Linked DNA regions of Homo sapiens: region 2 is linked to region 1. The links come from fine-mapping of genetic effects on gene expression. A gene starts in region 1. The other region holds a variant in brackets. All regions are shown on one strand. Distances are between the middles of the regions.

Evidence for each region. PIP is the estimated chance that this variant, and not a neighbour inherited with it, causes the effect.
Region 2: its variant is fine-mapped to the expression of TP53RK-DT in pancreas (GTEx, PIP 0.96).

The regions. Positions count from the first base shown.
Region 1 is chr20:46,688,183-46,691,093 of GRCh38, reverse strand. It overlaps TP53RK-DT (TP53RK divergent transcript), which reads right to left and starts at 1,795. Exons shown (of 1, transcript NR_186399.1): 1 at 805-1,795. TP53RK (TP53 regulating kinase) reads left to right here and starts at 1,650. Exons shown (of 2, transcript NM_033550.4): 1 at 1,650-1,962. The coding sequence starts at 1,680. RefSeq lists an enhancer at 1,202-1,791 and a silencer at 2,022-2,071.
Region 2 is chr20:46,847,323-46,850,233 of GRCh38, reverse strand. No RefSeq gene overlaps it. Among named protein-coding and RNA genes, the nearest start is that of EYA2, 46 kb to the left of the region's middle. The variant C/T (reference allele first, on the strand shown) is at 1,586.

The DNA of each region.
Region 1 (2,911 bases):
AGCCTTTAAAAAGAATGGAATGCTGTCATTTACAGCAACATGGATGGAACAGGAGGATATTGTGTTAAATGAAATAAGCTAGGCACAGAAAGACAAATATCCCATGATCTCACTTATATGAGGAAGGTAAGAAAAGTTGAACTCATGCAAGCAGAGTAGAATGGTGGTTACCAGGCGGTGGGGTAGGGGGAGGGAGATAGGGAGGATTTTGAGAAGTTGGTCAAAGGATACAAAATTTCAGTTAGATAGGAGGAAACATTCATGAAATCTATTGCACGACATGGTGACTATAGATAATAACAATGGGTTGTATTCTTGAAAAATGCTAAGATAATAGATTTTAAGTGTCCTCACCCCCGAAATGATCAGTATGTTAGGTAACGTTAACTAGCTGGATTTAGCCATTCCACAATGTATACATATTTCAAAACATGTTACTTACGATAAACACGTACAATTTTTACTTTTCCTTATGTACGTCTTCATCTGGCTGTTCATTTTTATCTTTTATACTATCTTTTATAATAAACTGGCAATAGTAAGTAAAGTGTTTTCCTGAGAAACAACAAACTGGAAACAACTGTTTAGCAACAAGAAACTGCCTGACCAGGTAGAAGGACGTGGTAGCTCTGTATGTATTGATATGGAATATAGTCTGAGATAAATTGTTTAGGAAAATGAAAAGCAAGTTGCCAAAGAACCCACAGTATGATGTCATTTATGTTGGAAAAAACGCCACAACGATGTGTGAGTGTGCACACTGAATGAAAGAAAATTCTGGAAAGAAACTAACGGCCAGCAGTGTCACAAGGGGGATAGGTAGTTTATTTATTTATGTGTGCGTGTGCAAAGTTCCGTATTGTAAGAATTTGCTACAGCCTGTGTTATTATAAGCTTTGTAATGAAACAGGTAGAAACTGAAAAAGTTTAATTATTCCCAATTCAGTTTAGGTTCTGTCTCCGGAAGACTTTCCCGGATTCCCCAGCCCCCACTCCCCACCCCATCTTACCACCCCCTCTGCCAGCTCTGAGTCTCAATTTTCTTTTCTGTAAGGATTTTCATCATTTAACCTTATTTCTTCTGAATGCACTAAATGGTAGTTATCCTAGCACTTAAGAGGATGTCGGAAACATGGTTCATTGTCTGACCCTTCCGACTCTGACTTGTATGAGCACATTTTGGGGGGAATGTAGGAGTCAGGGGAAGAGGAGTTCCAAAAAGAGACTACTAGAGGGTACAGCTGTCCCGGAAGAGACTTCTGAAGAGAGCAAAGCGCGTCCGACGTTTTTCTCGAGAGGCGCCGAAGTTTTCCGGAAAGAGACGACCAACTGAGAGGTGGGCCCCCAAAGCCGGCTGCGAGAGTCACCGAAGATTTCCGGAGAGCCAAGGAGTCGGGAAGAGCCACTTACTGAGCGTTGCCGAACGTGTACGGAGATAGCCGAAGAGGCGGAAGGCGGGGCCACAAGAGCCCTTCCTGCAGGGAACCTCAGGCTTCAGAGAGCCGAAAAGTTGGGAGGCGTAACCACTTACAGGCCGGAAGTGTCCGGGGTGGACGCATTCGGGTAGCCGAAGAAGTCCCAGGATTGCCGAAGAAGTCCCAGGATTTCCGAAGCGAGCCGAAGCATCGCGACAGTTTTCAGAGACAGCTGATCGGTTGGAGCTGTTGCGCCGAGCAGTCATGGCGGCGGCCAGAGCTACTACGCCGGCCGATGGCGAGGAGCCCGCCCCGGAGGCTGAGGCTCTGGCCGCAGCCCGGGAGCGGAGCAGCCGCTTCTTGAGCGGCCTGGAGCTGGTGAAGCAGGGTGCCGAGGCGCGCGTGTTCCGTGGCCGCTTCCAGGGCCGCGCGGCGGTGATCAAGCACCGCTTCCCCAAGGGCTACCGGCACCCGGCGCTGGAGGCGCGGCTTGGCAGACGGCGGACGGTGCAGGAGGCCCGGGCGCTCCTCCGCTGTCGCCGCGCTGGTAAGGTGGGCCGGGATCCCGGCGTGGGCGGCCCCGAGGCTCTGGGGCCTGGGCGGGTGAGGGACTCCCCTGCGCTCCGAAGCTGGATTTCCCTCAGTTTCTCCTTCTGTGCCTTCTGCGGTGTCCGGCCTTTCGGAAATGTTATTCTTTCATCCCTTTTTTCATTCGTTAAGTCTTAAGAAACCACGTGGCCATGCAGCGTCAAGCTTTTGTCCTGAGGCCGTTCTGCCTGGTTCAAATCTGGGATCTGTCATTATTGCTCAATGTTGAACATGTTTAACTTCCCTGAGCCTTGGTTTCCCCATTTGACTCGTTTCAATTTTCGATCATTATCTTTCCATTTATTAGTTTTAAGAAACATGTAATGACAAGTACTTGCCCCACTGGAGCCAGGCTCCCTGGGTTGAAATACTAACTCTGCTGCTTGTGTAGCCTTTCAACAAGTTATTTAGCCTCTCAGCCTCGGTTTTCTCACCTGTAAAATGGGAGACATAGTAGCAGTATCCATGTCATAGGGATGTTGTGACCATTAGAGGAGGTATGTGTGTCACGTATTATGTTCAAATGTGTGCCTGGCACATAGTGCCCAATAAATGTTGGATTTCATTAAATTGCCTATTTTTTCATTAAACATCATTGTGCGCCAGCACCATAAACTTTGTCCTCAGATGAGAAAGTGACACTCAGAGAGAAGTAACTTGCCCAAGGTTACACGGTTACTAAGTGGCCGGTCCAGGCCCTCAGCTCCTTATGCCTCTGACTCAGAAGCCCTGGCTTTTTACTTTTACGCTTCTTGCCTTTCTTTTATCAGTATTTTTTAGGTACCAGTGGGTACCAGGACATTGTTAAGTGCTGGGAGATCTGGGTGGGGGATATTCAGTAGCCAACAAGCGGACACATTGCTGCCCTTTCAGAGACTTAAGATTTCATGAAGTTATTTGTGTATTCA
Region 2 (2,911 bases), 160 kb before region 1:
TGGAGGAGCACGTATTACCTGAACAAGTTTCAATGGAAACTGTGATTTGCTAAATTACATGGTTTGCTTTGACGGGGTTACTTTAAGGACTGATCTTGAAAATTAATGCCTCTTCCTTCTCTCCCCACTTCCCATAATGCTGTTAACTCATCAAAAGTGAGGGCGATTTAGAATCTTCAGTCTCCTTCTTAAAGCCCTGAAATGGCTTCTCACTGTGCTTGGGATAAAGGCTGATCCCTAACGTGGTTAAGAGGCCTCATCTGACCTGCCTCCTGCCGCCTTCCAGATTCATCCCTCTACTCCACACTCAGATGCTGCACATCGCATCCTGAACTTCTCCTCGGATGCATCACAGCTTCTCTGCCTGGTACCCTCCTTTGCTTCCTTCTTCCAAGCAGAGATCAAGTTTTTTCATCTCCCTTTTCCTGGCCTGGCATAGTTCCCTCTTTTCCTGGTAAAAGCACCTCAGTCTCCTTGGGAGTCTGCTCTATCCGCATACTGTGGGTGGGTATGACCAAGCTATGGGGTCGAACAGAATCAAGCCTGGGCAAAGCAGAGTCAACCTCAGGACTTTTGCTGGCACTATTGTGAGGTGCCTTTCTATGGAGGTTTTAAGCAGACAGGATGTCAGCCTGGAACTGCACAGGAATGTCTTTGCCACCATGAATGTCTTTGCCACCATGAATGTGTACCCTGATTGAAATGAAGCTGCAGAGAGGCATGCAGACTCAAGAGATAGAGATGGATTCCTAATGACATCACTCAAGCGCCTAGATCCAGCCATTCCTGAAGCAAACAACTCTGGGACTTTCCAGTTACGTGAGCCAATGTATTTCAGTTACATGAACACATGTGTATTTCTCTGTTTGTTTAAAGCAACTTGAGCTAGGTTTCTGTCAATTGCAACTGAACGCTTCCTGAAGAATACACTTTCCCTTTTATTTCGTTAACTTTTGTTTATCCTTCAGGTATCAGCCTAGAGTCCTCCCTGATTCCCAAATCTGGGTTGGGTCCCTCCTCTGTGCATTCACAGAACCCTCTGTTTTCCACATATTAGCACTTAAACCACTGCACTGTCATTTTCTGTTTGCTTCTTTGATTCTCTGCCTACACTCTGAGCCACAAGCACAAGTCTTCCTGTGGTAATTACCACTGTGCCTATGTCTGCGAATGGTGCATAGTAGGCTGTTAGTAATTTTCATTGATTAGACCAATTAGTTAACGAAAATTACTGAACCTATATATAGTGGGCTACATCTATCAATTTTGAGAAATTAAGAGTAAATGTCTGAATCACTGTGTTAAAGAATTCTGTGATTGAATCCAGATTCATCAAGAAAGAAAAAAGATCTGATTGATTAGTAATGCCTGCTATGGGTCTGGGAATGGAGAGTTATGGTATGTGTGCCACATGCTCACCATCTTTGGTGTCTATTACCACTGAATTCCTTGTTCTCTGTTTGTTCCATGAGTGAATATCTTATCTCTTCAATTAGATTGTAATCTCCTTGAAGGTATGGACCAGATCTTTGACTTTTCAAGCATTACTGTTTTCTCTGCATCAGATATCTAAGTGCTTGGTAAA[C/T]ATTTGCTGGCAGACAGGGCTATGTTCTTTCAAAGTGAAAAACTGGAGACTTCACAGCTGTAACCTTCCAATCAGCCCCACCATTTCTCCATGGCCCAATGAGGGAAGAGCCAGGATTTGCTCCTTTCATTTTCTGTATTAGGAAAGACAAAGAGGCATATAGCCACCTTTCCCTACTGTTTCCACTTAATGTTCATGCTATTTCATGGCATTCAGCGACATAACTCTTCCAATCAAAGAGTTGCAATGTTCCCTAAGCATGAAATAAACAACAGCCTTCAAGAATTCCTGGGAATGGCCAGGTGCCGTGGATCACGCCCGTAATCCCAGCACTTTAGGAGGCTGAGGCGGGCGGATCATGAGGTCAGGGGTCAAGACCATCCTGGCTAACACGGTGAAACCCCATCTCTACTAAAAATAGAAAAAATTAGCCGGGCGTGGTGGCGGGCACCTGTAGTCCCAGCTACTCAGGAGGCTGAGGCAGGAGAATGGCGTGAACCCGGAAGGCGGAGCTTGCAGTGAGCCAAGATTGCGCCACTGCACTCCAGCCCAGGCGACAGAGCGAGACTCCGTCTCGAAAAAAAAAAAAAAGAATTCCTGGGAATGACATCAGTGAGTGAGCTGGATAATGTAGGTTGGCTCTCAGCTCTACTTACCCACACTCAACTCTTCTTTACTGCTAGGGCTTTTGGAAAGCTGCTAACCACATTTCCTAGATACCTGTGCACTGACATTTGGTAGGTTCTACCAATGGGAGACATTAGTGGGATAATGGAAGGTGCAAGAAAGGAGAAGCCATTTCTCCAGCTCCTGGCGATGCTTCTGTCAGTATGACAGCGGCACCATCAACAGCACCAGCAGTGGTGGCAAGGCAGGGCGGGTGGTGCTGGGGGAGTGGCGTGTGGCTTCCAATCCTGTTCAGAAAGCTTGTTCCCATCAGCAGTACCCTCAGAGGCAGCGTACCTGTGGACTCACCTCAAAAACTTTGTCTAGTGAGAATTAATGAACCACAGCTGCATGAAACAACATGGAAAAATCTTAGAAATATGATGCTGAGTTTAAAAAGCACCTGTCTCTTTAAACTGTGTACAATATGATATCATTTTTACAAAGCCCCCACAGAAGCAAAATTTTACCGAATATTGCTTAGGGATGCATATGTATTTGACAAAACTATAAAAGAAAAAGCTGAACTGAAAGCACAAAATTGAGAATCATGGTCCCCTTGGGGCAGGGTGGTGGGGGAGGCAGAGTGATGGGAGAGAGAGGATGGAGTCAGTGGTATTAATATTTGGGAGTTTAAGTTGGGTGCTGGGTTCACAGGTT